3 linked regions of the Homo sapiens genome follow. The protein of the gene in region 1 interacts with the protein of each later gene in a biochemical or structural test. Each region holds a gene or a part of one and is shown in the gene's direction. Other genes may lie near its edges.

Evidence for each region. The genes of interacting proteins can lie anywhere in the genome.
Region 2: of the proteins of MET (region 1) and PTPRB, one has a biochemical effect on the other in vitro, tested with the Homo sapiens proteins (one study listed by IntAct).
Region 3: the proteins of MET (region 1) and RANBP10 form a complex in vitro, tested with the Homo sapiens proteins (one study listed by BioGRID).

The regions. Positions count from the first base shown.
Region 1 is NC_000007.14:116,666,694-116,676,873, forward strand, and holds the start of MET (hepatocyte growth factor receptor isoform b preproprotein), read left to right. Parts: upstream 1-5,502; 5' UTR 5,503-5,884; intron 5,885-10,180. UniProt on the Homo sapiens protein: Receptor tyrosine kinase that transduces signals from the extracellular matrix into the cytoplasm by binding to hepatocyte growth factor/HGF ligand. Regulates many physiological processes including proliferation, scattering, morphogenesis and survival.
Region 2 is NC_000012.12:70,564,410-70,572,828, reverse strand, and holds part of PTPRB (receptor-type tyrosine-protein phosphatase beta), read left to right. Parts: intron 1-741; coding exon 742-1,005; intron 1,006-1,378; exon of another isoform or gene 1,379-1,539; coding exon 1,540-1,803; exon of another isoform or gene 1,804-2,890; coding exon 2,891-3,154; exon of another isoform or gene 3,155-3,331; intron 3,332-6,124; coding exon 6,125-6,394; intron 6,395-6,924; exon of another isoform or gene 6,925-7,029; intron 7,030-8,419. UniProt on the Homo sapiens protein: Plays an important role in blood vessel remodeling and angiogenesis. Not necessary for the initial formation of blood vessels, but is essential for their maintenance and remodeling. Can induce dephosphorylation of TEK/TIE2, CDH5/VE-cadherin and KDR/VEGFR-2.
Region 3 is NC_000016.10:67,722,550-67,727,959, reverse strand, and holds the end of RANBP10 (ran-binding protein 10), read left to right. Parts: intron 1-63; coding exon 64-209; intron 210-521; coding exon 522-633; intron 634-1,401; coding exon 1,402-1,532; 3' UTR 1,533-4,890; downstream 4,891-5,410. UniProt on the Homo sapiens protein: May act as an adapter protein to couple membrane receptors to intracellular signaling pathways.

The DNA.
Region 1 (10,180 bases):
GTGTCAAAGTTTAAATTAACAGATGGACTGGATAAGTTCATTTGGAAATGATGCTATAGTATGCTGCATAAAAATGAAAATTTTCTTTCCCAAAATTTACCAGAAGGTAAAAGACAGAGAAAGAAAAGAAAAATAAATGAACATGACTTTGGAGATAGAGGCATCGATAGGTCAAAGAGTTATGGAAGCAGCCTTCCAGGACTTTTTGGAAGTCTTGGCCTTAATTTCTCATCTTCCAAGAGGACAGAGATTCTCCAAAATATCCTCTCTTAGGACTTCTCACTGCCTGTCATCTGGTTTTTCCTTTATTTCTCACATTCCCTAGGTTCCCAAAGGAGAGATCAGAAATTGAGAAAACAGAGGCACTAGAGAAGGAACATTCCAGTCCCTCTTCACATCCCACAGGTCTGAGTCCTAGGCACCTACAGCCCACCACTTAGGCCAGCTTGACTGCCTAGGACCCTGGCTCCGACCTGTGCAGTGTTCTACAGATGGACAGCATAGCACCTTTGGCCTGCACTGCAACATCAGTCCCCAATGATCAAGCCAGCAGAGAAGTGGCCATGCCTTAGGTTGTGGCTGACTTTGCAGACAGAGAAGGAAAATGAAAGAGTGCCTTAAGTTCTACTTCTCAAAAAAAAAAAAAACTTTTGGGTACTAGGCTTAATAGCTGGGTGATGGAATAATCTGTACAACAAACCCCCATGACACGAGTTTACCTGTATAACAAACCTGCACATGTAACCCTAAGCCTAAAATAAAAGCTTAAAAAAAATAGGTCTACTGCTCCCAGTTAAACGACTGCATCATTCACTACAGAACCGGAGACAATTTAAAATAATTATAACAGAGGCCGGGCACAGTGGCTCACACCTGTAATCCCAGCACTTTGGGAGGTTGAGGTGGGTGGATCACTTCAGATCAGGAGTTCAAGACCACCCTGGCCAACATGGTGAAACCCCGTCTCTAATAAAAATACAAAAACTAGCATGGTGGCGGGAGCCCGTAATCCTAGCTACTCAGGAGGCTGAGGCAGGAGAATCACCTGAACCTGGGAGGCAGAGGTTGCAGTGAGCTGAGATCACACCTTCGCACTCCAGTCTGGGCCACAAAGCAAGACTCCATCTCAATTAAAATAAATAAATAAATAATTATAATGGAAGTGCAGTCATTCTGGAAAGACACAGACTTAAGACAGCTGTGTGACTTTGGATAGGTTACATGATCTCTCTGAGCCTCATTTCCCTCAATGTAAACCGAGAAGGGTGATACCTATTCTGGAGTTCTTTTAATGAGGATGTAAGCAGAGCTCCAGACTCATGATGAATACATGGTACACATTTAATAAGTGACAGCTAAATACATTATACCTTTGCCTGATTTTAGGAGAGAGGTCATAAGCTGGATGTGAAAATGAACCAAATCACTAACAAAATTGCAGCACCCTGTTGGAGACGGTAATTTTTTCTTAATTTTTCTGCCTACAATTTCCTAGGTCTTCTAATTAACATTGTGATACTTTAGCTTGTAGCCTAGCAGTCTTGTTCTTGTCCTCAATATTAAGTATGCTCAGTCATATTTTTAGATAACTTAACATTGCATATTTATTTTTAGACAGCCCAGCCACACATAAATGACCAATACAAATCAACATAAAAGCAGTTCATATCCAAAGTGCCCAGTTTTAACCCTCTGTAGCTGGCAGTTCCATTTTTAACGCGAAGTTTCCTAAAATGTATAATCTATAAAACTAATTTTATAGAAAATTGACACTGAAGATATTAAGAAAAATCAAAGCATTTTGTGGTCAATTAAATTGGGGAGATGGTAGGGTAAGCAAAGTTAAGAAGGGTTTTTTTGGTTTTTGGTTCGGTTTTGCTGTTTTGTTTTATCACATGAATTTTCAAAACCTTCAACATTCGAACATACATGACATAGCTCTAAAAAGGTAATAGGAGTCCTACATTTCCAAATTTTATCTGTGCTCAGAAATGACATTAGGTGACATTACCTGAATTCTTCTATTGTCTTTTTGTAGAGACATTTGCCATAGGCACAATAATAGGGGTGATGGGGCAGGAGGAAGGGAAAAACAGAGTGAAAGAAGGAGTTCCAGAGTAACTACTCTTTAAGGCAGGGATCACAGATCCTAATGCCTACAGGAGAAAGTGAAATCAAGATCAGAGGTGGGCCAGACACAACCCAAGAGAAGATGGTAGGTCAATGGCAAACAGCAGATCATATGGTCTTTCTACCTCAATTCACACTTTTAAAAACATTCTGTGCACCTGTATATGTCTGTGGGCCCTATTCACCATACATTGCAAGCATGAAGCCCCTATTCTTAGGAGACTGCTTTCATTTTTATTTCAAAAACAGCACCAACTTCAAGAGTGCCTTCAAAGACCCAAATTTTAATGTGTTAAAGGGAGGGAAAAAAAGATAGAGCATATTAGAGCAGGAGGTGGCTGTTCCTCTGTCTCTTTGTCACAGCTATCACTAGACCCATCTCAAAGTTAAGAGATGGGATCCTGTTTGTAGTTCAACATTATGTTATCCACAGGTGGATGGATAAGACCTGCTTATGCCTTTGGATCATTTATATTTTACCAGACACTGTTCCATGTGCTCTACTTGTAGCTCCTCATTTTATCCTCACAATAACCCTATCATGATCCCCATTTCACAGATGAGACACGAGAGAGTTTAATCCACTGGCCTGTAGCTACACAGCTAGCAAGAGACATAGCTGGGATTGAAATCCAGGTTGTTTGGTTCTAAAACTCTTAACTATTATGCTCAACTCAGTCTTGGAGATGTTGTTCCCAATTTGAGGGGTCTATCAGTTTTAATTGCTTTCAGCTGCAGGTGACAGAAGTCCCAGCTACCAGTGTCTAGAACAAGTTTTGTTTTTGTTTTTTTTCCACAAAACAAGAAATCTGGAAGCAGGTGTCTACTGGCAGTAGGGCTGTACCTCAGCAATGTCAGCACCAACTTCTGCATGCTGGTCACAAGATGGTTAGTTCTTCACTGGGCATCATATATGAAATCAAGAAGCAAGAAAGGAAAAGGGGTGGCACCAGCCTTAAACCCTTTCCCACAAGGCCCCATCAGACTTCAACTTATACCTCATTACCAGAATGACATCACATGGCCATGTCTAGCTGCAAAGGAGTCTGGGAAAGCAAATATTTCTCTTTTCAAGCCCCAAGAGTGGAGGCAGGAACAGGAAAATCTCGTTGGGAACAGATGCTGGCTTAGCCAGCCAACAGTGTGGACCACAAGAGATTTGGTTTGGTTAAGAAAATACCAACAGAACTTCATCATACAGTGTATCACCCATGACATGAACCCAAGGAAAGTTAAATAGCAACAATTAAAAGTTTGCTGCAAAACCAAAATTGAATTATAGAACTCCTATTACCTTTTAAAATATCTGTTTCCATTCATTTCCAAAAATCTGAAATTATCTGTAAACATTTTCCCAATCAAATCTGTCTAGGTAGTGTGTAAAAATTACTTGACCTTCACACACCCAGATACTTTTAGTTATGCTATTGTTAGTTATGTTATTTCATAAAATGTTATCTCCTTATTTACAGTTGATAAATGAAATGATGATTTTCAATACAGTTTCAAAACTGGATTGAAATTTTGTTAGTTATTAGAAACTAGAAAGTTTCAGTGCTGAAAATACACAACGGGTTGTTTGTATTTATCATCTATTTTATTTTCCAGTTTGCATTGGCTTTTCTGGGTCTTTCTACAACTTTAATTGTAAATTTTTTCTTTTATATTTTTATCATGGCACTCAAACTCAGAAAACCTGTTAAGGCAACTACATAATGTGATCTAAAAATCCAGTTAACATATTGCTATGGAAACCAGGAAATAGAAACAGCACTCTAATCATTCCTTTAGACAACTATGGCTCTGTGTGTGTGTGTGTGTGTGTGTGTGTGTGTGTGTAAAACTTTTTAAATTCATTAATTTATTCATCTTTTATTGAAAGCTGTTACTGAACCCAAAATCTGTAATTGATCTGTCCATAAATAGGCCCAGTGCCTTATTACCAGTAAATTAGTGTTTTTTAATGAGCTATAGTCATTGATAAATTATGCCATGCCGTATCAGGAAATCTCCAGTCAGGCCGCGTTGTTTATTTAGCCTGCTGAGGCCTCTTGGTATGGTGTGAAGGACACCTGACTGGGCTGAAAGCTAAGTTCTAACTTTGCCCCTCTTACTAACCAGCTATGTGACTCTCCTGGGAACTTTTAGGGACTCAGTTTCTTTACCTGCAAAATGGTTCAATGCAAGACTTTAGTAACGTAATGGGAACTTTCCTTTTCCATAAAACTGGGGAATCAAGAGGTAATCTCTTTTGAGGACTGAAATCACTCTTATGTAACCTCTGGTTACATTATCATTTCCAAGTGCCTGGCACTTGGGAAATGATAACTATTCTTACTACATTTTTCTATGTTTCATTCTGTAGTAAATAAGAACTGAACCTGCATAGTAACTGTTATTTTAACCCATGACTTTCAATAACGAAGATATCTATGTCTCATTATCTATTGCCATGATTGAACAAGTTGGTATGAGAGCCGGAACGAACTCAAGTTCTAACCGGCAATGCCCGTTCCTTAGATCCTATTACCTTTGAGTGTTCATTTACTCTTGTAGGTGCCAATTTTTATAGCGAAATACAAAGTTATCCCAACACAATTACTCCTAATAGAGTTCACCGAGGCCCCAAAAGCTCTTTTTTAAAAATCATCATAAGATTTCAACATTCAAGAATTAAACTTTTGTTCTGTTGTGCTTATTCATCGCTATTTGCCCAGTTATTTAATCAGCCTGCTTCCGGCTATGGAAAAAAAAAAAAAGAAAAAAAGAAATGGAAGTCTCCTCAGGGTTAAACTCCTCTGTTGTTCTTCCTTGCAGAAATTTGAGTTATTATAGTAGAGGATAATCGTTGCATAATGAAATCATTGGGACAATTCGTCCATCCACTTCTACCTCCGCCTCTAACAATGAACTCCTTGTTTCTGCGGTGCCCAAATCTCTCTAAACCCGGGTGGGCGCGGGGCGGTTAGCGGAGACGTGGGAGAGGCCGAGAGCAAAGCTCGCGCCCTTCCCGGGGTCAGCGAGCGGGGTGCCAGGAGGGTGCGCGCCCTGCATCTGAGCCCGGGGTGACACTCGCCTCCCAAGCGCCAGGAGGGGGAGACTCGGTCCCGCTTATCTCCGGCTGTGCTAACTTCAGACTGCCTGAGCTGGGGGAGGAGAGCGCGCAGCCAGGGCGAGAAAACTTCTCCACCTAGAAAGTTTCACCTTGTCGTGGGCGGGGCAGAGGCGGGAGGAAACGCGACCCCCGCGGGGCCAGGCGCGGCGCGGACGGCAGGAAGGGCGGGGGCCGATTTCCCTCTGGGTGGTGCCAGTCCCCACCTCAGCGGTCCTCGGAACCCGCGGACTAGGGGACGGACAGCACGCGAGGCAGACAGACACGTGCTGGGGCGGGCAGGCGAGCGCCTCAGTCTGGTCGCCTGGCGGTGCCTCCGGCCCCAACGCGCCCGGGCCGCCGCGGGCCGCGCGCGCCGATGCCCGGCTGAGTCACTGGCAGGGCAGCGCGCGTGTGGGAAGGGGCGGAGGGAGTGCGGCCGGCGGGCGGGCGGGGCGCTGGGCTCAGCCCGGCCGCAGGTGACCCGGAGGCCCTCGCCGCCCGCGGCGCCCCGAGCGCTTTGTGAGCAGATGCGGAGCCGAGTGGAGGGCGCGAGCCAGATGCGGGGCGACAGCTGACTTGCTGAGAGGAGGCGGGGAGGCGCGGAGCGCGCGTGTGGTCCTTGCGCCGCTGACTTCTCCACTGGTTCCTGGGCACCGAAAGGTAAAATTGCAGCCCCTTTCAGATCCAGTACCCAATCCCTCGCCTCAGGGGTTCTGCTTTCTTTGTTCCCCTAAGAGACCTGACTGCTGTTCCAGGGGGCAAAACCACGTAGGTGGGCTAGAGTTTAGGGGCTTCGGAAACTGAAGAGACGTGGCCACGGCGAGGACGAAACTAGAATGGGGCTTGTCTTTTTAGGGGGTTGCTTCTGATGGCCACCTGTATGACTTAGGAGGGAGAGGGGCGCTGGGACAGTGGGTGATGTGTGACTGTTACGGCCCAGCAAGTTTTAAAGCTGGGATCTGACTCAGCCCTTACAAAAGGGATCCGGTCATCCTCGTCCCACCGTGATGCAGCTGGCAAGGTTTGAGCCGAGCTGTTTCCTTGTTCCCAGCCTTGCTTTATCTGTGTTATGTTGGGGTCCTTCCAAGGGGCAGGTGTTTCTGTGAAAGTCTGAATTCATTTCTGGCAATCACGCGGGGCTTGTGATCCATCAATTTTCCATCGTACCTTATCTCTTTCTGGGGCTTGTGGTGGACATCTATCTTATTAGGTGAAATAGATTATAACCAGAGGCTGAGCGATGTGGCCAGTCGTAGTGCTGACCCGATAATTAAAGCACCAGTGAAAGTACTTTCCCTGACTATTGTCAATGCAGAATTTACTCCGAAGTACGGTTTCCCATTCATATCTTTCATGTTTTAAAAGAGCCATTTGCTAATTTGGCAGTTGGAGAGGGCTCCAATGGCTCACGCATGAATAGTTGCCCAGTGTATTTTACCTTATCACAGTTTTATGTTCAAAGGAGCCCTCGGGCAGAATGAAATATTGTCAACTCTCTTAGGCAAAATAATCAAGATACTTTAATTGCTATGTTAAGATGGTCCATGAATGTGAGAGGATTGTAAGAACTGACGTTGGAGGCAATATAGACTATCTGGACCCTCTCTTGAATTTTAAGAAGACTGTTCACATTCTGTAGCTTTGGGTGGGGGTTTATTCTGTCGCTTTCATCAGCCAGACACATGCACATTGCCATGCAAATGGATTCAGAAAAACATTATATTCCCTTACAGCTAAACTATTATAGCTGACTAATGAATTTTTTCTGCATGAAGATGATCTGAAAATGATGTACATCATGTTTCTCTGTGCTACAGGGACATAAATTGCATTTTTATGTAAACAGTGTAAGTGGTGCTTGGATTATTTACAGGTACATAGCTTTCCTTCCTTGATCTAAGCTAATTGAGCTTTGTTTTGAACGTGTAAACTTCCATAATGGAACATAAGTGAGGTACTTTGGTTCCTATCATTTGCAAGTCTGTGGTGTATTCAATGTTCATTCTTTTTGAACTGCTGAATAACAGAGGGAAAATTTACATCATTCATAAGAAATTTTGGTAGTACAAAAATGTGTCTGATAGCCTATAAAATGTACTGCTGTTTTAAAAATTCTATTCCGTTTTCAAACTTAATGGTGTATAAGCTATAGTTATTAACTTAAATATATTTTGCTTTTAACATGATGGAATTTGTGGCATATAGAAGACAGTCTGCCGACTACTGCTTTTTCAAAATTGCTTTGTTCTTGATACATGGCAGTAGGGGTTTACATTAGATGTATACTACATGCTTTCAAAATTAGTTGATGGAGTTTATCTTCATGATAAAAAATGTACCAGATTAATCATAGCCAGTCAATACGAAAGCTCATAACTAATATTTTCACTACTTTTAAACCTATAATAGAGAAAAATGACCCTTTGCTAAGCAGGAGAAATACCCATATTTTATAAATTCCTTTTAAGACTATGTAAGTATATGCCTTGCATTAATCTTGAAATCTTTAAAAAAAAATTGTCTTAATGAGGGCTAGACTAAGAAATACATTTCAAAAATCAATTTCCTTAGCTGTTTTTAAAATAGTGTTTGAAGTAGCATTAGTCATATTATCCTTCTGCAGATCTACATAATAGTCTCAAATTAACTTTTTCTCAAATGTGGTCATCTCAAAACAACGTGAATAACTCAGAGGAGCTAACATCCTCTAACTGGCTTATTTTCTCCAAGTGGCTGCACCAAAGACATGGCAACACCCCCATGGTGAGCACAGTTCCTCACACATTCAGATTACCTCCCATTTCTCTGTCCTCTTCCTCCTCAACCCTTTCCCTTGGTTTGGTCAGAGCTGCTTTCAAGGCCTTCCGTGCCCCCATTTCTCCAGCCCAGTTTGCTCGTTTCTTCTTTAGGCATTAGGCTTAGTGATTCTCGCCAGAGCCATCTACGCTTTCTTTTCCGTGGTCTAAATCCCTAAGATTTCCTTGGTCTGCTGTGTTTATTCATAGGATACTCAATTTCCTCATTGTGCCCTCTTAAGGGGAGAAAATGTATGTAGAAACTCAAGTGTCCGGAAGTGAGCCTTCTTTTCCTGGCTGGTGTATGCTGAAACTAGTGTTTTTGACACCAAGCCCTTAGGGCAGAGTTTCTTCATGGGTTTTGCTCAGTGCAAAATAAATAGTCACTTCTCAGTAATAAATGATAGATACACTGACTAATGTTAGTTCAGAATCACTTTGATGATGTGTTCTCAACTGACACTGAGTTGCTGCTAGATCCACATTTGCCTGACCAAAAATAGCTAGGACCTATAGGTAGAGTATCATATGTGCTAGGTACTACAGCATTTTCTTTAAAAGAAAGAAATGGAATCTGCCCTTGAGAAGTTTATGATCTAGATACACAGACAAATATCACATATTAAATGAACACAAATTCATAATTATTAAGAGGACATCACATGAGAAACGCTTTCAAAATCATCCTATTTGCTATGAAATAATAGAATTTTTTTTTAAAAATCAAAGTTTGGAACTTAAAAACCTTAACATTTTCAAGCTGTTTCTGCATACATCACCTTTCTGATACCAAAACGACCTTACAAGATAGGCAAGTCTGATAACATCTTAACATTCTTATGTTATAGACAAGGAAACTGAGCTTGAGACTAGCTCCATGCTATTTCAATAGCACCATACCACCTTTCCTCAGCCATCAACTATTGGAAACATTTTCCATGGAGGCATCATTAGGGATGCTTAAGATAGTGGTAAATGATGAATATAACATATCTAGTCCCTGGAGTTTTTGTCACCTTCTCTTTCTCCAGTTCTCTCTCTCTTTTTTTTTTTTAATTTCTTTTCTTTTCTTTTTTTCTTTTCTTTGTAGTGAGACATACCGAGAAAAGGTTTCATTCATATGTGTGGGGCATTCTGCTCCTGTTATCAGATTAAGAGCCGTGAATAATTTTGTAATCTATCCTTCTATCAGAAAGCCCATTCTCAGATATCTTTTCAGCTGTGTTAAACAGGTTAGTATATTCCGCTTGGGATTTGTTTCAATAAAAACATCCAGTAAAATCTGACTACTTTGCTTTTCATGGGACAAAATGAAAAAAGTGCTTTTATAAGCTGTAAAACTTAATTGAGAGAAAAAATCACGTGTGGCATTTGTAGCAGGAGGTATGAGCTCAGTGAAATAAAAAAGTTAACTTTGTAATCACATACCCAGGTACACATATTTCTCTCTGTGATTGCATAAATGTGTGCAAGTATGTTTATGTAGGTTACTCCCATTGATTTTAATTTCTATAATAAATTATGTAGCTATAGGGCCCACAGGCGATTATATAATGGGCAATAGAATTTGAAAATGTATCTCTCCTAATATAATTAAGGATAGCAATTATGAAATGTGCTTAGAGAATCACAAGTTATCGTGAAAGCCAGGTTCCTGTACTCCAAGAATGTGAATGAGGATTTAGTCATTCATTCAGGACAATTTTTTGACAACCTACGAGGCATAGTTCTAAAATCTGGCATTTCCACAGAGTATAAAACAGATGAAAACCTCTAACCTCATGACACTCTGTTCTATTGAGTTGGCAAACAATAAAGAAATACATAACTGAAATGTGTTGTATGTCAGGTGATGATAATAGCTTCAAGGTAGAATAAAATGGAAAAGAGAATAGTGACTGTCAAGGATAAGAGAGAGTGGGATGGTGATTGAAAAACTCAATAGTGAGGTCAGGGAAGGCTTGTCTTCAAAGGTGGGCTTTGGGCTAGAATCTGAAGGAGATAAGGAAGTGAGCCAGGCGCATATGAGGAGCACTTCTCAGGAGTGCTATTCTCATCTTGTTTTTCCTGAAATTGTGCAGTTCACAGCTTGCACAACTGTCCATAGACTCCCTGATTTTGGAGGGAGATACCTGAATAGTGCCCCTGTTTTTGTAGGGAA
Region 2 (8,419 bases), on another chromosome or scaffold:
GTTTCTTCTTCCATTTTTCTTTTTCCTTTTCTTTTCTTTTTTTTTTTTTTTTTATGAGATGGAGTCTTGCTCCATCACCCAGGCTGGAGTGCAGGGGCATGATGTGATCTTGGTTCACTGCAACCTGTGCCTCCTGGGTTCAAGTGATTCTTCCATCTCAGCCTCCCGAGTAGCTGGAACTACAGGTGTGCACCACCATGCCCAGCTAATTTTTGTATTTTTTAGTAGAGACGGGGTTTCACCATGTTGGCCAGGCTGTTCTCAAACTTCTGACCTCAAGTGATCTGCCCTCCTCAGCCTCCCAAAGTGTTAGGATTACAGGTGTGAGCCACCATGCATAGCCTCATTTTTTTGAGGGGGGCGGGTTGGGGGATTGCTTATATTCTTCTTAGTAACTTTTGAGTCAGCAAGGTATGTTGGAATTATCTATATCGTTTACCATCACTCATATTAATCATCAGCCATCATGTTTAATGTTCCATCTTATACATGACACTTTGTGCAGGCAAACAGCAGGCTTAGAATGAGTTCATCAGCTTCTGTTAAAAGATCCGTTTAATCACTCCACATAGTGTAACAATCTTTCCCCTCCAGAAATTTGTAACCTAAGGTCTAAGATTTTTCTTTTAAATGCACACAATAATAATCTACTCTCTCTTTTTATTGTCCCAGCTTGTCATCTGTGATCAATTACTCACTCAGAATTCATAAATATTTAGTTACTCTCTGTTTCCTTTTCAGTGCCTGACAAAGTCCAGGGAGTCAGTGTTAGCAACTCAGCCAGGAGTGACTATTTAAGGGTATCCTGGGTGCATGCCACTGGAGACTTTGATCACTATGAAGTCACCATTAAAAACAAAAACAACTTCATTCAAACTAAAAGCATTCCCAAGTCAGAAAACGAATGTGTATTTGTTCAGCTAGTCCCTGGACGGTTGTACAGTGTCACTGTTACTACAAAAAGTGGACAATATGAAGCCAATGAACAAGGGAATGGGAGAACAAGTAAGTGGAACGATTGCAAAATCTGACAGTTGGTTGGACTTGAAAGTCTCTAGTAATTTATCTGAACCTTGAATTTTTTCTGCTTATTCATTAGTACATTACATTCCCAGTAAGTCTCACTTGGTGCTAACATCATTCAGCCAAGCCATGGCCTATAATTACAGAATATTTATTGGTAGATAAAAGCAAACATAGTGAGGGAGCAAGAAGGCTAAATGTCCCATTTTTCTTCCCTATCTTCCTGCATCATGGCATTTAGATTCTAGACTTCTTGTTTTATCTTATGATTGAGATCATAACTCATTTTATAATTATGTTCTACCAATGCTGATCATGTAACATTTATGTCAGGAAAAAACCACAATGTTAATAGTTGCTTCCAATTTTTCTTGTTTAATTATGCATGAAGTAGTGCTAGTGGTTTATTTGGGGAAGGGAGATGTTGCCAGTTCCTTGAATGTGATTCATAAATTATTATGTAGGTAAACTCTGATCAGTTCCTTTCCTGAAATGTCTTCTCATTTTTCTCCCTAGTTCCAGAGCCTGTTAAGGATCTAACATTGCGCAACAGGAGCACTGAGGACTTGCATGTGACTTGGTCAGGAGCTAATGGGGATGTCGACCAATATGAGATCCAGCTGCTCTTCAATGACATGAAAGTATTTCCTCCTTTTCACCTTGTAAATACCGCAACCGAGTATCGATTTACTTCCCTAACACCAGGCCGCCAATACAAAATTCTTGTCTTGACGATTAGCGGGGATGTACAGCAGTCAGCCTTCATTGAGGGCTTCACAGGTAATGTGAAATACTGTTCTTGAACCTGAATAGATGCAGTGGTGCATTTAACTTTCGGGTAGTTCAGGTATTTCGATTGAGCATTTGGAGGGATAAAAGGGAGACAGCAAGAAGGGACAAAGTCATGTTGATAGTGACAATGATGTTGTCCAACCTGGATGAATGAAAATAAAGTATGATGTCAGCAGAGAGTGGCGGGGTTGGAGGGTGCTTTCAGAGAAATAGCAATGAACTGATGTGATCAGCTGGTGCTTCTGAGGCACACAGATTAAGAATTAAGTGTTACTTGGGTATCACTTCTTTAGAACTCTTTTAGGAGTGTTGCCATAGTAGTTAACATGTACTGACAGTTCACCATGAACCAGACCCACAGCAAAGCATTTTATGTCTACATCTTGTTCAGTCTTCACAATGCTTTGGAAGCCAAGGCAGGAGGATAGCTTGAGCCCAGGAGTTCAAGCACAGCCTGGGCAACATGACAAAACCCTGTCTCTACAAAAAATACAAAAAAATTAGCCGGGCACGGTGTTACGTGCCTGTAGTCCCAGCTACTGGGGAGGCTGAGGTGGGAGAATCACTTGAGCCCAGGAGGTATAGGATGCAGTGAGCCATAATCATGCCATTGCACTCCAGCCTGGACAACAGACAGAGACCCTACCTCAAAAATAAAATAAAATTAAATTAAAAAAGAATCAATCTTCACAACTCTATGGGCTGGTTAGTATTATCATCACTGCCATTTTTCCTAATGAAGAAACTAAAACTTACAGAGGTCAAGTAATTTGCCTGTAGTCCCACAGCTAGTGAGTGAGAAAACCAAAACTTGGACCAAGACACCCTAACTAGCCCCTCGCTATATAATTAGCATTCCTCATTTCCACTCACCGGCTTTGACTTCCCCCTAAGCTTTCCCCCATCAACTTTAGTTCACACAGAAAAATCAGAGAAAAGTGGCAAATTGTTACTTTCTTTTTCATGTGAGTTCTCTCAGTGGGTGCCAAAACATCAGAAGCATTCAAAACTTTGTTTGAAAATTTCAACAGTTCATTCTCTAAGTGATGACTTTTAAATTTATTTTCTGTTTTAGTTCCTAGTGCTGTCAAAAATATTCACATTTCTCCCAATGGAGCAACAGATAGCCTGACGGTGAACTGGACTCCTGGTGGGGGAGACGTTGATTCCTACACGGTGTCGGCATTCAGGCACAGTCAAAAGGTTGACTCTCAGACTATTCCCAAGCACGTCTTTGAGCACACGTTCCACAGACTGGAGGCCGGGGAGCAGTACCAGATCATGATTGCCTCAGTCAGCGGGTCCCTGAAGAATCAGATAAATGTGGTTGGGCGGACAGGTAAGCATCCACCTGGAGAAGGGCTAGATTGTAGAATGCCTCATGGTTCTCCAAAATGGGACAGTGAACGGGCTCAGCTATTCACAAATCCAGATTTAAAACCACCAAAGTTTGTACAATTCAATGGTTTCAAGAGCCTTACTCATTTATTCTTTGTATTTTTCTCTTAATAGAGATCTGCAAAACAAATGAAAGGGAATCAGAAACCAAATCATTTGAACACATTTTTATACTTGCTAAAGGATAATAAAATTTTAAATTTTAACAAGCAGGCTGGGCACAGTAGCTCACGCCTGTAATCCCAGCACCCTGGAAGGCCAAGGCAGGTAGATTGCTTGAGTTCAGGAGTTCGAGACTAGCCTGGGCAACATAGCTAAACCCCATTTCTACTAAAAATACAAAAAATTAGCCAGGCGTGGTGGTGCACACCTGTAGTCCCAGCTGCTTGGAAGGCTGAGGTGGAAGAATCACCTGAGCCCGGGAGGTCAAGGCTGCAGTGAGTCGTGATCGTGCCACTGCACTCCAGCCTGGGCAACCGGAGTGAGACCCTGTCCCAATAAATAAGTAAATAAATAAATAAATAAATTTTAATAAGGAGACTTCCATAATTATGCATTTTTCAAAAGTTCTACCTTTTAAGAAAGAGTACACATCTGTGCCATCTACTTTACCTGGTAGAGCTAAAAAAACAAGTATCAAATGTATGAATAATATATCTGTTTATATCAATATCACTATTCATGTATTATTTTTGAAAGATCTCTAGCCATACTATAGTTCTCTTACAGATGAGGAAAGAACAGTTCAGAAAGCTTGTAAAACAGTATCAAGGATACGTATATAACAAGACCTAAAGCTATAATTCAAGTCTAGGTCTGTCTGGCCCCAAACCTCGTGCCCTCTCCACTGTGACACAATACTTCTTAGATGTCTCCCATTCTCATGACCACTTATTTAGTTGTGGGGTCTGGGGCTTCTATACCATGCCCTACTATGCCTCTATTTCATATCTATATTTATATCTATATCTGCATATCTTTAACCCTATGACAAATCCTGTGTTAGAAGTGGGCATTCGGGCCAGGCGCGGTAGCTCACGCCTGTAATCCCAGCACTTTGGGAGGCCAAGGTGGGTGGATCACAAGGTCAGGAGATTGAGACCATCCTGGCTAACATGGTGAAACCCCGTCTCTACTAAAAATACAAAAAATTAGCTGGGTGTGATGGCAGACGCCTGTAGTCCCAGCTACTCGGGAGGCTGAGGCAGGAGAATGGCATGAACCCAGGAGGCGGAGCTTGCAGTGAGCTGAGATCATGCCACTGCACTCCAGCTTGGTGACAGAGTGAGACTCTGTCTCCAAAAAAAGAAAGTGGGCATTCAGTAGCAAGGCAAAGCCCCTGACCTCAAGAACCTTATAATCTAGTGAAGGAGATAGAAAAGTAAAAAGGCAATTACAGTAAAACATGGTACGTGCTAAGAAAAAAGTGGTTATGAGATGTTAGAGGAGCAAACAAGAAGAGTCAGGGAAGGCTTTCAGGAGGAAGTAATATTTAAAGAAAGACTAAGAAGTCATCCAGGTGAAGTGTAAGTTGTCTTCGTTCCAACAGAGAAAACAAAGCCCTGGAGGTGAGAGAAAGGATGGCACATTTGGGAACCTACACCTTTTTTAGTATACTAGAATAAAGGCCGGGCACGGTGGCTCATGCCTGTAATCCCACATTTTGGGAAGCTGAGGTGAGTGGATAGCCTAAGTCCAGGAGTTCGAGACCAGCCTGGGCAACGTGGCAAAACCCCATCTCTACTAAAAGTATAAAAAGCAAAAGTATACTAGAATAAAAAATGTGAGGCATGTGGCCAGGTAAGTAGAGAGACCAAATCACAAAGAGCTTTGTTTGCCTGTGAAGGTGTTTTGGAATTATGGAGAGCCACTATAGGGCCATTAGCATGGGAGTGCTATGAAAATATGCTAGATAGAGTCTGCAGATTGAAAGAGTAGGAGGTAAGGACACAAGTGACTGGTCAATAGGCAGTTGCAATAATGTATGGTCTCATTTATACTTGCTAAAGGGTATGATGTGGTCCTGAGGTAGTAGCAGTACACAAAGAGGGAGTGGCTAGATTCAAGAGATAGAAGATTTAGGATACAGAAATAAAACTCGTATTTGATTATATATACAAGGGTGAGAGTGATAACTGAAGTTTCTGACTTGAACCAAGAGATAGAAACAAAAAAACAATGAGAATATTGGGGGAGGGAGATGAGGAGTCCAATTTGGACGTCTTGAGTGTTGGATGTCTGTGGTACATTCAGGGAGAGATGTAATTTGCAAAAGCAGGAGAAACATCTAAACTGAAAGTTTAAATTTGGGAGTTGTCACCTTATGGATGACACTTCAAACCATGGACATAGACGAAATCTAGGAAGATTATGTAGAATGAGAAAAGAAATGAACCTAGTACAGAAAATATTATTATAATAACAATAATACTATTTTGCCTTTCACCTCAGGAGCTATAGAACAAATACTAGTATCCACTACTGCTGAAGTCAAGTCTTGAAGTTTTGACCTTAGTTAATGTTAGTAATAAAAGTCTAAACAAGAGACATAATTCAGCTGTCAAACCCACATTCACTGAACATGAACTTGCTCAGCATTCTTCACTTTCTAGATTCATAGGTATGCACCACTCTGCATATTTATCAGGGCCATTTTCACTAACTTTTCTATCTGAGATCCTATTTAAAATCAGAGAAAAAATGGAGAATCAAAGTAGTTGTACAGACAGGTTAAGCCAACAAATCCTTTCTCCTCTTTTCTCCATAAGGGCACACAGAAAGTGTCAATGACACACAAATAAAGCAAATGCATCATCTTCTACCTGCAGTTGATTCAGGAGTTTTTCTCAATTGATGACTTTACCCTAAGTGATAAAATCTGTATTTTGTTGCTCCACTTGTCTCTCTGCAGTTCCAGCATCTGTCCAAGGAGTAATTGCAGACAATGCATACAGCAGTTATTCCTTAATAGTAAGTTGGCAAAAAGCTGCTGGTGTGGCAGAAAGATATGATATCCTGCTTCTAACTGAAAATGGAATCCTTCTGCGCAACACATCAGAGCCAGCCACCACTAAGCAACACAAATTTGAAGATCTAACACCAGGCAAGAAATACAAGATACAGATCCTAACTGTCAGTGGAGGCCTCTTTAGCAAGGAAGCCCAGACTGAAGGCCGAACAGGTAATTAGCACAGCATAATGTTTTGTAGCACATATTGCCAATGTCTGCTATTGTGTAAGAACCCCAGGGTGAGAGGGATGAAGCAACATTGGGAGATGATATCTATCTCTTGATACGCTGGGAACATTCACCCTGATTTGCCACTTCCATGTCAGTTGCCCTATCCACGCAGGACTCAGCCCACCACACTCTGTTTCTGATTTTTCATTAATATTGGTGCTATTAGCTTCCTATTGCTGCTATAATAAACTATCACAATCTTAGTGGCTTAATACCACCCAAATTTATTATTTTCTAGTCCTGAAGATTAGAATCTGAAAATGGTTTTTTGGGACTGAAATCAAGACAACAGGGCTGTGTTTCTTGTAGACACTTTAGAGGGAGAATCCACTCCTTGCCTTTTTCAGCTTCTGAGGCCGCCCACATTCCTTGGCTCGTGTCCCCCTCCCAACAGTGACATTGCTCCAATCTCTGCATGGGACCTTACATCTCTTTCTCTGCTCTCCTGCCTCCCTCTTCCATCTTTTAAGGACTCTTGTGATTACCTTGGTCACCAACCGGACAATCCAGGATAATTCCTTCGTCTCAAGATCCTTAACTTAATCACATCTACAAAGCCCTTTTTGCCACAGAAGGTAACATATTCACAGGTTCTGGGGGTTAGGACATGGACATCTTTGGGGCCATTATTCAGACAACCACATTGGCCTAATTGATTGATAACTTATTTATTAAGTACATAGGTCTGAAGGCGGGGATGGTTATGTTGACAGGGACATAAAGATGAATCAGGCATGCTTCTCGTCCTTAAAGAGCTGACTGACGAGACAGACACATGGACAAATAATGGCAATGCATTGTGATAAAGAGTACATATAAGAGAGGGATGTCTGGCATTCAGGGAAGCATGGAGGTCAGGTAGAATTGAGACATCTTCATAAAAGTGACATTTCAGTACTGCCTTGAAGGATGAAGAAATTCTCCTTATGGAGAGAAGGTAGAATACTTTGTACAGACAGTCTGTCCTGTGCAAAGGCCAAGAGGTATGAACAGGAGAAAGGAGAAGTTGTGGGTGGCTGAAATGTGTGTTGCATGATGGAAAGGTGAGACTGAAAGCCAGATTGGAGCCAAATTAGAGGGTGCCTGGTAGCCTTCCTCAGGAATTTTATCTTAAAGCAATACAAAACTTTTAGCCAGAGAGTAATTGTTTTGTAATAAAAGATGTATCTTTAAAAAGATAAATCAGATAGCAATGGGGGAATGGATTGAATGGAAATGAACCAGAAGTGAGGAGATCCACCTATCAATTCATTTATTATTGAGTACCTACTATAGGCTAGGCACTGTTCTAACTGCTGGATATACAGAAGTGAATAAAAAAACTCCCATGGTCATTATGTTTATAGTCTAGTGGGGAAGAAAGTCAATAAATAAAATAAATAAGTAAAAGATGTAGGAGGTTGGGTGGTAATAAAGACCAAGAAGGAAATTAAGTTAGGAAGGTGGGATAGCAAGAGTTGGGGCTTACAATTTTATCTATCTATTTATTATTATTATTATTATTATTATTATTATTATTATTATTATTATTTATTATTTTTGGAGACAGAACCTCGCTCTGGCACCCAGGATGGAGTGCAGTGGCACAATCTCAATTCACTGCAACCTCTGCCTCCTGGGCTCAAACAATCCTCCCATCTCAACCTCCCAAGTAGTTGGGACTTCAGGCATGTGCCACCACACCCAGCTAATTTTTGTATTTTCTTGTAGACACAGGGTTTCTCCACATTGCCTAGGCTGGTCTCGCACTCCTGGGCTCAAGAAATCCACCTGCCTCAACCTCCCAAAGTGTTGGGATTACAGGCACGAGCCACCACGCCTGGTCAAGGGGCTTACAATTTTTTTTTTTTTTTTTTGAGATGGAGTCTCCCTCTGTTGCCCAAGCTGGAGTGCAGTGGTGCGATCTTAGCTCACCACAACCTCCACCTCCTGGGTTCAAGCAATTATCCTGCCTCAGCCTCCCGA
Region 3 (5,410 bases), on another chromosome or scaffold:
CCCTAGTCCTGCCCTTCCCTCTTCACCCCTCCTAACACGTTCTCCACTGGGTTCTGGATGCAGATGACAGGCATCCTCGGCGGCAGCTCTGCGGGGGCAACCAGGCTGCCACAGAAAGGATCATTCTGTTTGGCCGCGAGTTGCAGGCATTGAGTGAGCAGTTGGGCCGGGAGTACGGCAAGAATTTGGCCCACACAGAGATGCTGCAGGTACAGGATGAGCCGGGCCTCATGCAGAGCAGGCCCCATTTGGTGTTGGGGGCAGGGTGGCTCTGGGAGAGTCCAGGGGGCAGCAGGAAAGAGTGGGCTCCAGCCAGGTCTGCAGAGGGAAGTGGGGCATCTGGGCCCACTGGACATGTGCCCTCCACACCTAGGCTCTGGGGAGAGTACAGCCCTGCCCGACCCTACACCCCACATTCCAGGCTGGGCATCATGCAGGGCCCTGTCTCCCTCTGGAGCCACGGGTAGCAGGGTGAGCTATGGTGTGTGCCACAGTCCTCTCAAGAATGCCCTGTCCTGTAGGATGCCTTCAGCCTGCTGGCATACTCAGACCCCTGGAGCTGCCCAGTTGGCCAGCAGCTTGACCCCATCCAGAGGGAACCTGTGTGTGCTGCCCTCAACAGCGCCATTTTAGGTGAGTGAATCTATTTATTATTATTATTAGAGACAGAGTCTGCTCTGTAGCCCAAGCTGGAGTGCAGTGGCACAATCTTGGCTCACAGCAATCTCCACCTCTGCCTCCTGGGTTTAAGCAATTTTCGTGCCTCAGCCTCCTGAGTAGCTGGGACTAAGGTGCGTGCCACCACGCCTGGCTAGTTGTTGTATTTTTAGTAGAGACGGGTTTTGCCATGTTGGCCAGGTTGGTCTCGAACTCCTGGCCTCAGGTGATCTGCCCGCCTTAGCCTCCCAAAGTGCTGGGATTACAGGTGTGAGCCACCATGCCTGGCCTAGGTGAGTGGATCTAACAAAAACAGAAGCTAGCCCATAGCTACCTGGGTGGTTCCCAACCCCCACCCCAATTGGCCCCAGAAAGAGCTGATGTTTATCCACACTGGGGCAGCAAGCTCTGTACAGGCCCTCTCTGGTGACTCATAGGACTCCTGGGCTCCCATGGTTGAACCTAAACCTTGACCTCTGTCTGCCCAGCTGAGTTCATGATGGGTCCTAGGCCATGGCAGTAGGCCCAGGCCAGCCCAGCGCTCTACATGGGGCTAAGGTCCTCAGGTTCCTGGCATGACTTCAGGGCCATGGCCTGGTGGCTGGGACACACTTACACAGAGGTACTGAACACTCTGTTCCAAGAGAATCTGTCCACTGCCCCCTCCTTCCACCCCCAAGGGAACTTTGACCTGGGCCCAAGCCCTGGGCAGGCCAGTGACCAGGCCTTGTCTTTCCTCCACAGAGTCCCAGAACCTGCCAAAGCAGCCCCCTCTGATGCTCGCCCTGGGCCAGGCATCTGAGTGTCTCCGGCTCATGGCCCGAGCAGGCCTGGGTTCTTGCTCCTTTGCCAGAGTTGATGACTACTTGCACTAGCTGACTGTGCTGGCTGGCTCTGGCTGGCCCTCCACTGGCCCCAGGGCTGGAGCTGCCCTGCCCTCCATAGGCAACTGGTGCAGGGACTGGGAAACCATAGACAGAGTCCACTCCTCCTGCCTGGCCTTTCCCCCTCTCCCTTTCCTTCCTTCCTTCCTTTCTCTGCCCACCACCCCGCTCAGTCTCTCTCTCTCTCCCCTTCACGTGCAGCGGCCTGTAACACAGTATTGGCTGGTTACTCTCATGTAGCGCCTTCTATTTTGAAAGGGGGGTTTTGTTTTGAGGAGGGGTTGGGGTTTTTAAATTTTTTTCTCCTGACTGAGCCACCAGTATTTATCTCTGGAGAGTTTGTGCTGAGCTGGTTTCTGCTAATTTAGTGATGAAGCCTATCCAAGTTGGTGATAGCTTATTATTTTCATAAGTAAAAAACAAATGAGATTATATATATATATATAAAAATATATATATTAAAAAAAAAGACAGTATTTATCGTAGCATTAGTGGTCCAGCACCTCTTGGGTGAGGCTGTCCAGGCACCATGTTTTCTTTGAGTCCAACTCATTAAAAAAGAAGAATCTCTGTCACCTCAGCCAAGTGATTTATTTTTTGCTCCCCCTTTTTTGAGTCACAGGCCGAGCTGCAGCCTAGGAAACCCAAATAGGGTTTGGTGGGCCACTTAGTGGGCATGGTTACATTGGTTTATAGCATCCCAAGAACTGTAGATCCCTAGGCCCCTGAGAGCTGGACAGAGCAGAGAACTACAGGGCCAAGGGTCCAGAGAAGTGATAACTTGGCCCAGGGCCACACAGCAGAGGTAGAGGGTCCTTGGCCAGCACACTATCTACCACTCTACCCCACCTCCCACTGCCTGCCTTGCTCCCCTTTCCTCCCTTTTCAATACCCTATCTTCCCTTGTTGTTAAGATGGCCAAATAATACATTTACTCTAAATTGATTGCCTGGAAACTACCTGCCTTCGTCCTGAGAGCTTCTGTGTGTCAGGCTGCTGGAAAGAAGACTCCATTCCCAGGACAGAGGCCCTTGAGTACAGGGGCTGCTTTCTTCCTGCCTAGATCTTCACCATCTCTGCACAGCTCTGAGAGAATGGATGCTTTCTGTTGAGAAACCAGTACCTTGTGGAGGCAGGTTCTTGGGCTGCTACTCCAGGGAGTGGATGGAATCCTTGGTCCCCTAGGCCAGACTTCACTGCCACTGTGCCAGACAGCTCCCTGCAGCTGGGCCCTAGCCACTCTTAGGAAAGACTATTGGGAGTATTTGCTGGCCAGAGAATGGGACTCTATCAGCTTTACACATGTCCCACCAGCTGTTTCAGATAGATCCTTACAGCTGGCAGAGTAAAAGTGGTCCCGCTACCATTGGGGAATCAGGAAAGGAAAGACTGAGATGGTTGCCAGGACTTGGGGTGGCCCACCTGTGGAGAGGACTGGCTGCCCTGGAGGAGGAAAGGGAGGAAGTCTACACAGAGGAGCACCAGGACGGCTGGAATTTCCATATGTGCTTCACATTGTGAGGGGAGTGCACAAGCCGCCCATGCAAAGAGTAGGGTCAGCCATGGCAAGGCCGGAAGTTGAACTTTCAGTCCCTGCCTGAATCTGGGCTTTGCAAGCTCCTGCTCCATATTGGTGGACATGGGAATGGTTGGTGTGGCCTGAGATACCCATTGCTCACCAGGCCTCACTGGGCCCACAGCTGGGCAACAAGAAAAATGTTTGAATTGGACCAACTGCTGGTGATGGGGCCAGGGCCCTGGGCCCTGTGCTGTCAGAATTCTGCCTTGGGAAATGATCCTATAGCTGCTGCTTTTTCTTGGTCCTTGGGGCTGGCAGACCCATAGACCATGGCCTGTTAGGAGGCGTCCTGTCTGTAAAGGAAATTCATCTCTTGTGACAGCCTGGGGCTACCTAGCTCCCAAACCCAGAAGTTGGAGACATCAGGCTGTTTAAATGATCATAGCCTAGCAGGATTGGATTAAAACCACAGGCTTTTGCAGCTGGAATGGGGTTCAGTGAACATCTCCCCCATTCCTCTCTTGCTACAAATAAGGAAACAGGCCCAGGAGATTAAGTGACTTGGCTAAAGTCACATAGCAAATTAGTAGCAGAGCCGGGACTATCCCTTATCCCTGTGGGTTGGGCAACACTATTTAGTCCTGAAACCGAATGGCAGATAAACCCCATGAGGGGTCAGGCTGATGTGCCCTCCAGCAGTATCTGAGAAGCTGCTACCTTCAGGGGTGTGTCAGGGATGAGGACGGGTGCCTGAGCTTAGGTTGTGGAGTGGCTGAGAGGGCCCAGGAGGGCTCGGGACAGCTGTGTGCTGCATGGGGTTGGGTGTCTGCCTGGCTCGCACTTGGTACCCATGGCCACCTCCCCATTTTCTGTGCCTTATCTCACTGTTTCAGCTGAGTCCAAGTTGTTTACTCTGTTCCTCTCCAGAGGGGCTCTCTGTCCCAGTTGGGCAGCTCACCTTTGGGACATAAGCCTTTGCCCCACAAGCTGTGGAGAGGGCCAAAACCAAGCTGCTTGAGCCCACTCTCTTGCTGAGAGTCCAGGCCTGCCTGCCTGCCAGCCAGAGGTGCCCCTTATGCACATCCAGTCCTACCAGCCTGCTTCCAGGAGCCTAGAGTGGGAAAGGCACCTGGGGGAGCCCTGGTGAAGGGCTGGACCTGACCCATGGAGGCAGGAGGAAGACCTGGCTTTCTTGGTTTGTCCGGCCCTGGGGAGCAGCCTTCCCTACTCACTTTCCCCTTGCGGCACCAAATGGTCACTCCTTCCAGAGCAAAAACTGGCACTCATAGCAAGCCAGAACCCCCATCCCCATCCTCATGGGTCTGTGGCTGGGTGCAGGCCATCAAAATGGACACCACGAGACAGAAGTGGGGACTGCCTGGCCACCTAGCGCCTTCCCACTCCTTAAGCAAGCACAAAGAAGATGAGGCAGAGAATTGTCAGAGCTGAAAGTTCCTTTGGTTGCTCACAACTCAGGTATGCACCCATGTGGCAGCCAGGCAGCGGAGCCCTACTAGACTGCCAGTCTCATGCACCCAGACCTGTGGCCAGATTGTGGCCTCTGGCTGCCTCAGGCATTTTCCTCTTTGCATTGGGTTTTCCTGCATTAGTAACTACAGCTGCAACAGACATCCTCCACATTGTGCACACTGGTTTTGCCTTTGTCCTCAAGAGTTGATACTTGGCATTAGCATGAAACTTGTGGGTGTGGGAGGATGGAGAGAGAACTCTAACACAAAACATCTTATTAAAATTGTACTTGAGAGACAAAAAAAAAACTCTGTTGTATTTTGACAGAATTATTTTTATTAAAATACACATCCATGAGCAGTCATGTGTGTCTGGTCTCTGTTTTGAGTCTTACTGAGGTTGGCACCCCTTCTGTGACACATCCTGTCCTAAAGGATTTGGGCCCTTCCCAGCCTCTCAAGTGCCCAGGCCCTCAGGTGCCTTCTTCAAGGACCTTTGAAACTGTGTATTTGTAAGACCCCAAAGAGGACAGGTACTTAAACCTCAGTTCTCTCTTGAAACGGCTTTCTTCTTATACAAGGAAAAAGTAGCAAATTCAACTAAAGAGCCTGGGCACAGTGGCTCACGCCTATAATCTCAGCACGTTGGGAGGCTGAGGCAGGTGGATCCCTTGAGCTCAGGAGTTCGAGAACAGCCTGGGCAACATGGCAAAACCCCATCTCTACAAAAAATACAAAAATTAGCTGGGCATGGGGGCGCATTCCTGTGGTCCCAGCTATTCAGGAGGCTGAGGTGGGAGGATCACTCGAGCCCAGGAGGTCAAGGCTGCAGTGAGTTGAGATCATACCACTGCACTCCGGTCTGGGTGACAGAGTGAGAC